2 linked regions of the Homo sapiens genome follow. The protein of the gene in region 1 interacts with the protein of each later gene in a biochemical or structural test. Each region holds a gene or a part of one and is shown on either strand. Other genes may lie near its edges.

Region 1 (3,940 bases):
CATCCCGTTGAGGAACTATATTTGTTAACATCCGCTGAACTTCTTCCTGGTCTATCTGAGGTCCTAGGTAGGAGGGACTCCTGAGGCCCATCCTACCCTGCTCTTGCCCTCCCCTTCCCCGAGGCCTCCATGGGTAAGGCTGAGGGGTGATCCAGGGCCACGTGATCAAAGGGAGGATCTTAGCAGTACAGCTGCTTAAGAGAGCAGATTCCAGAGACAACTGGCCAGGGAGTGAGGATGGGGTGCAGAAAATCAGGCCATCCCCCTTAGTCCAGAGGAGACAGAATGGCAGGATTTACAGAGGAGGGACTGGTGATCTGGTAGAGGAATGACTGGGGACTCCAGCACAATCACTAGCACTGTGACCTGGTTCTACTGGAACCTGAAATCACAGTTTATCCTGGGAAAGCAGAAGGTCAGAGACCAAGTCTTCAGCCTCTCCAGGATCCACAAAGACCTGGTGTCCAGCCAACCAGGAAGACAAAGCAAGGAGGAAACATGCTGCTCCCTGCACCCCCTCTATCACCCTACTTAACCTTCACTACCCCCAGCAGGGTGGGTTGGGCACCACAGAGAGATTACATTCCTTAAACTAAGTGGTGGCAAAACTGGGATTCTAGCTCTGATCTCTCCAAATCTGAAGCTGATTCTTTTTTCCTAAATAGTACTGTCCCTCCCTTCCCTGAACCCCTTCACTGCCCACCCCACTGGAAGTGTGGCAGCTAGGGGTCTCAGGGCTTGATTTACCAATCAAAGACCCGAATTTAGGGGTGATCTCCAGTTTTCCCCCAAGTTCTCAGGGGAACTCATTTCTCCCTCATGAGGGCACTAAGAAAAGCAATAGTTCTTTTCCTCTTGGGATCCTGGGGCCAGGACTGCGGATCCTGAAAAATGGAAAATAAAAACAAGCTGCAGGGCACAGTGGTTCACACCTGTAATGCCAGCATTTTGGGAGACCTAGACTGGTGGATCATTTGAGCCCAGGAGTTTGGAACCAGCCTGGGCAACAGAATGAGACATGGTCTCTACAATTTTTTTTTTTTTTTTTTTTTTTTTTTGAGATGGAGTCTCGCTCTGTTGCCCAGGCTAGAGTGCAGTGGCGGCGGACTACAGGTGCGCCCACCACTACGCCTGGCAAATTTTTTGTATTTTTGGTAGAAACGGGGTTTCACCATGTTAGCCAGGATGGTCTCCATTGCTGGGATTACAGGCGTGAGCAACTGCGCCTGGCCTTTTTTTTTTTTTTTTTTTTTTTTTTTTGGAGACAGAGTATTGCTCTGTCGCCTAGGCTGGAGTGCAGTGGCTCCATCTCGGCTCACTGCAGGCTCCGCCCCCTGGGTTCACGCCATTCTCCTGCCTCAGCCTCCCGAGTAGCTGGGACTACAGGCGTCCGCCACCACGCCCAGCTAATTTTTTGTATTTTTAGTAGAGACGGGGTTTCCCCATGGTAGCCAGGATGGTCTCCATCTCCTGACCTCATGATCCGCCCGCCTGGGCCTCCCAAAGTGCTGGGACTACAGACGTGAGCCACTGTGCTCGGCCTTTTTTTAATTTAGTCTGGTGTGGTGGTGAGTGCCTGTAGTCCCAGCTACTCAGGAGGCTGAAGGGGGAGGATCACTTGAGCCCAGGAGGTTGAGGCTGCAGGCAGTGAGCCGTGATCATCCCACTGCACTCCAGCCTGGGCAACAAAGCGAGACCCTGTTTCAAAAACAATACGAGCTGCAGCCAAGGGGACAGGAGGCATGGCCACGATTGATCAGAGACCTTTATCCTCTCAGGGTTTCAAAGCTTGCAGAGGTGGAATTAGGACTCCAAAGTCTTGGGTCTCCTTTCCCTTTGAAGACTCCCCTTCCTACCCCCACTCACGAGAGAAAGGGAATCATTCTCCTTTTCCTGAGTAAAAAAATGAGGTCTCAGACAGTGGAGAGCACTCAGTGTGAGAGCCCAAGATTTAGGCAGATGACCTGGCCTCTGAACTGAGCCCCTAAGACCACCAAACAGCTTAGCATTGACATTCTGCTGTTATACAAGAAGGAGCTAGAGAGAATTCAGAGAGTTTACCTGCCACAGGCTTCCAAAATCTCAGGCCAGAGAACCTAGAAGGTGGGATAGATGGGGGGTGACTTCCTACCCCACTCTACCCTGTAGCCTCCTTATGGAGTCACTTTGGGGCCACCAGCAAAGCACTGAATTAGGGCCTGTTGGGTGTCCAAAGAGCCTCCTCCCCTGGCACATGTATGGCTTAGAGATCATTCTGTCCCCTCACCCAATGTGAGGCAGAAGCACCATCAACACTTGGTAGATATGGTTGACAGTGAGTGACAGAGAGACCCACCCTCCTGTCACATTGCTGCCCTTCCCCCATGCTCTGCATAATTGATAACGGAGAGACAGCTACCCTCCCCCAGGGTGACTGAACGTCTGGGCCAGGGGCTCCTAGCCATCCTAGACGCCCCTCCAAAGCTCTGGCGCCAAGGCCCAGCCAGGGGGCAGTGGGACACAGCTGGCAGGTCAGAAATAAAGGAAACAAAAAGGGGTATGTGTGTGTGTGTTGGGAGAGAGGAATCTCCACTTTACTATAGCTCCCAGGGGCAGCAGCTTTCCCTCACTCCAGGTCAATGTGGAAGAGCCGTCAACTAGCCTGAGATCTTTCCCTTGGTCCCATCTCCTACTTCTTCAGCTATCCCCACTACCGTAAAAGACAAACAGGTGAAATGGCTTCTCTCCTTCTCTCCCCAGCTGCTGGCCCTGGATACCAGAAGGGCCTCTGGGGAAGCCTGGTGAACTGGAGGGAGGCTCGGCTGGCTGCAAGTGTCTCTGAGCATGTCACCCTTTCTATGCCTAAACCACCTAGTCGTCAAACAACCAGATGACGGCTGAAAAATTCCTTTAAAAAGCCAGGTGCTGTGCCTACTCAAAGCTCGGCTTCTAGACAGAAAAGGAGATGGGTGTTCTCCGTGTTTCTCACTCCCCTTTCATCTCCATTTTCTCAGGGTCCTCTGCTTTTCCAAACAGCTTTTCAAGCCATCCTTCTCGGGGTTGACTCCGCTTGACGCTGCTCCGGTGTCTGTATATGTCTCAGCTCCTTCCTCCTTCCTAGCTGTACCTTTCGCCTTTTCTGTGCCCTGTCTCCCTTTCTCTCATTTCCTGCTTTCCTTCCCTGTGGTACTGCACCCCCAATGCCAACCCCACAAGTCCCCTCCTGCCAACACCAGACGCCTCAGCCGAAGATCTCTCTGCATGCGGGGGCAGGGGAAGGAAGGGAACACAGATGGGGCAGACCGCTGGGTGGGGGTCCGCACCTAAGATCCTCGCAGCCATCCCGGCAACCAGCCACCTGGGCCGGCCCAGGTCAGGGGCGGGGCCCAGGCACAGCCCCGCCCCCACGTCGCGCTCACGTGATCCGGGGCTAATCTTGTCCTGGTGACTTCACGCGCCGCCTCAGGCCCAGTCGTCATGGTTACGCCGCAGCGCCCAGCGCTTCCCCCAGCCGGCCGTGTCCCTTCCCTTTCCCCACCCGGACCACCCCCTTCCGCCGCCGCGGCCCCCGCCCCAGCCACGCGCCACGTGACGGCCGGGAAGGAGGTCGGGAAGGGGGAGGGGGCGCTGTGGCCGTAACCCCTTCCTCCCCACTTTCAGCGGTCCTGACTTGGGCTTCGTCCTTCCATTGCTGGTGACCAAGCTGTCCAGGGCACGGCCCCGGCTCCTCCCCGAGGGCTCCAATCCCGCCATCCCTCCCTCCTGGCCTGCCAGGCGAGAGCGTCCCAGAGTCTTGGGCCTTGTTTCTGGGTGGTCCAGAAGCGAAGCCCGGGGTTGCGGCGGAGTGGGAGGTGGTGGGGGCGGGGAGGGAGGTTGGGGGGCAGGCAAAATCCCTTGGGTCCTCCAGACGAAATTCTCCCATATGTTGGCACTTTGCTTGGTCTGTGTTTGTCTGTAATTT
Region 2 (3,600 bases), on another chromosome or scaffold:
GTATTTTTAGTAGAGACAGGGTTTCACCACGTTGGCCAGGCTGGTCACTAACTCCTGACCTCACGTAATCCACCCGCCTTGGCCTCCCAAAGTGCTGGGATTACAGGTGTGAGCCAACATCCCCAGCCTTCTTTAATATATGTTATTTATAATATTGGATGTGTGTGTGTGTGTGTGTGTGTGTGTGTGTGTGTGTGTGTGTTTAAATTAATTTTCTAGTAGTTGCCTAATCTGTAGTGCTGCTTCTAGGATTTCTATTAAAAGAATATATATTAAATTCTTATTAAAGGCCAGTTATGATGGCTCATAATTAAGATGCCCTAGGAGCAACAAGAGCTGGGTGGGCTACTGATTTCCAGATGGGAATCTGGCCATGTTTATAAGACCTGGACTTGAAGATATTGGGCAGCCAACGAGGCCCATGGAGGAGAATTCTGGCGGGCTCTCCACTGAAGTACACCTACCTGCTCTCACCTTCAATTTGCCTTTAATGCCTCTCCACTTGATGTTTACGGCTAGCCACTTTTAGGATCTGAGCCATCAAGATGATGGATGAAATTGGGTTTGGAACAAGAAGGCAGGGCTATTTTGACCCAGGACACATTTCCAACATGCTGTGAAGAACTCTCAGCATCAAATAACATCTGGGTGGAAGAAGTTTTGGGAAAGAAGTCTAGCTGTAGATCACACAATGCTTCTAAATGGGAGAAAATGTCCAGCTCCATGGCTTAGATTCTTTGGGAAGTAGGATAACTGGCTATTCCATTTTAGGCAAGGCTGCCTGGCCAGAAACCCATGTCTTACCATTTCGAGTACATTATGGTTGGCTTACAAATCGTAGCCTCATAGAGAACTTTTTCTTCTTTTAGCTACTGTCTTCCTAAAATAAAAGTCTCTGTGCAAAGCAATGGAAGAAACCTCATATTGTTTTTTGGGGTTGTCATTTTATGTAACTTACAATAATGACTACGGCTCGTCTTATACAAGATGTAAAGGATTTGGGAGAGGGAATCCAGTGTGCATTTAGGGGAAGATGGTGATGTAGATAGCATATTTCAGGAGGCTGGGAAGTGTCGAGTGCTTAAATATATGCTTCTCAAATTTAATGGGCATACAAATTACCTGGTGGTATTATTAAAATGTAACCTCTAATTCAGTAGTTTTGGGATGGGTCCATGGACAGCACTTTGGTTAGTTCCCCTTGGGACTCCCCTTTCCCCTCAGAGAAGTGTAGAGGGTTGGGGTATTGGGCTTAAGAGGAGTTCCAGACTGTAACCATAGCTCTAGGTAACTCCCTTCTGGAAGTGATGTGTTAGCGACTGGAGGAGAAAGGGATCCCTGGGATCCTTTTCAGCTTTACTATTCTGATTTGGGGTTCTGAGATTCCAACAAAGTGGACTTTTGGGAGTCACAGACCTCCATGGGAATGATGAAAGCTGCGTACCTTCTTTCCGCACAAATGCAGGCCCACCTTTAATTCTGCAAACCACTTTAGGCCCCGCGGGCCCGCAGCCCTGGTCCAAGACAGCTGTCTGCTTCACAGGTCGCGCACCCAGAGCCGGGCGGTTCTGCAGCTCAGCATCTGGCCCGGGCTGCGCGTCGGGCTCTGGCGGGGGCGTGTCAGGAGGCGTGTCCGGGGCGTGTCGGAGGCGGGGCCAAGGCGGGGGTAAGCCTCGCCCCTCGGCCGTGCGAGAGGCCGAGCTTGCTGCATTGCAGCCGCCGCGGCGCCGCTCGGCTCTTCACTCCCAACAATGGCGGCTCCGAGCCCGAGCGGCGGCGGCGGCTCCGGGGGCGGCAGCGGCAGCGGCACCCCCGGCCCCGTAGGGTCCCCGGCGCCAGGCCACCCGGCCGTCAGCAGCATGCAGGGTAAGGAACGCGGCCGCGCCGAGATCCCAGCCCCCTAGCGCGGCAACCCGCGTCGTCGCGGCCTGCCCCAGCGGACGCCCCCGGACCCGGCTGAGGAAGCCACGGCAGCCGCCGGCTTCTCCCTCTCTCCCTCCCCGGCTTCCCGCCCCGCTCCCGGCCGCCTCCGGCCCGGCTTGGATCCGGGCTCCGGCCCGCATAGGCCCCGGCCGCGGCCTCTGCCTGCGCTTGGCCCCTGGGCCCTACCGGGCTCTCAGCAGGCCCGCAGGGCCCACCTGGTCCGGGACCGCCCCCGCGGCCGTCCCCATCGCCCCCGCCGCTTACCTGGCGCCCGCCCGGCCCCCGTTTCCGGGAACGCGCCGGCTCGGGGCTGCGGCGGAGCGGGAGGGGCGTCGGGCCTGCCCCCTGGTCCCTGACGCCGCTCAGGTAGGCGGCGAAGACAGCGGCCCCGGCCGGCGCCCCTCGGCCCCGCCGCCGCAGTGGGCCCCGCTCAGGGCCATCTTGGCTGTCGCCGGGCACAGCTGGAGCCGGACCACCGAGCTGACCTCGGGCTACGGGGGCCTCTTGGAACCTGCGTTTTCAAACTTTTGCAGGGTTTCTGTGCGCTGGAAGGGATGGGGGTGGGGGGCGGGTTGCCCAGGCCTGTGCCACCTGTAAGGTAGGTAGGCTGCATTGGCCTGGGAGAGGCATTTTGTTCCAGGCCAGGGATTTCTGTGTTAGCATTGCGTGCAGGAAGAAAAAAAAAAAAAAAAAAAAAGAAGACTTAATTTGGTTTAAATGGAGAGATACAGGAAATAGACAGGGGTCAAAGTGATACTGTAGTGTCTGGACATTTGAGGCAGCTCTGCTAATTAATGACTTTCCCCACTGGGAATGCTTATTAGCTGTGTATGGCTTTTGACAGGGGGTGTTGTGAAAATACCAGGCCAGGCCCGAGCCTGTTAGGGACCATTTCCTTAAATTTACTGGGGAATTTTGAGTAGTAATGCTATTTTTAAAACAGGGAATCTCAGAACTCTCTTGACAACTTTAGCAAACTGCTTGTGTTGAATTATTAACAGAATAAGGGTTGGGGTACCCTTGGTAGTCAGTGTGACCATGGTTACTTTTTGATTCCATTCCTCTTAAAGGGCTTCTAGCATTTAGTTAGGTTCAACAGACATTTATTGAATAGTTCATGTTTATAGAGCATGCCATAATTCAGAAAGAAGAGACAGGATTTTATTTATCTTTACATCCCTGTCACCCTCCCCATGAAATAATTTTAATATACATAAAAACCAGTGATAGATATATAGACAGGATGATGTCAGAGCTTAGAGGACACTTTCTGTGCAGGCCCTCAGATAATTCATTCAAATTGAATTAGTTATTGGATGCCCACTGTGTTGCACAGCACATTATACTGATGAAGTATAAGATTGACTTCCTGACTGTACAGCTTTACAATTTAGGTGGTGGTGGTTGGGGCGAAATGAAATGGCAAAATGACAATTTAGGATTGTATTTCTTGTTCCAGATGGGTGACTTACAAAGCTTATAAAAACAAGGTGATTTGTTTGTTTGTTTTATTGGTGGGGAGGCTGACAGTTTGAAATAGCTGGATACAGTGTGTTTTTTTGGTTCAAAAAATATTTATTGAGCATCTGCATAAAACGCTCATGCTGAGTTTATAGAGAATTGAACATCTCTAACTGTCCTCATGGAGGTTATCCCCCTGTGAAGATGGGGGAGGGA

The links. The genes of interacting proteins can lie anywhere in the genome.
Region 2: of the proteins of MAP3K12 (region 1) and MAP2K4, one has a biochemical effect on the other in vitro, tested with the Homo sapiens proteins (one study listed by BioGRID).

The regions. Positions count from the first base shown.
Region 1 is NC_000012.12:53,492,660-53,496,599, reverse strand, and holds part of MAP3K12 (mitogen-activated protein kinase kinase kinase 12), read left to right. Parts: intron 1-1,662; exon of another isoform or gene 1,663-2,901; intron 2,902-3,529; exon of another isoform or gene 3,530-3,585; intron 3,586-3,940.
Region 2 is NC_000017.11:12,019,136-12,022,735, forward strand, and holds the start of MAP2K4 (dual specificity mitogen-activated protein kinase kinase 4), read left to right. Parts: upstream 1-1,741; 5' UTR 1,742-1,751; coding exon 1,752-1,866; intron 1,867-2,187; exon of another isoform or gene 2,188-2,392; intron 2,393-3,600. UniProt on the Homo sapiens protein: Dual specificity protein kinase which acts as an essential component of the MAP kinase signal transduction pathway. Essential component of the stress-activated protein kinase/c-Jun N-terminal kinase (SAP/JNK) signaling pathway.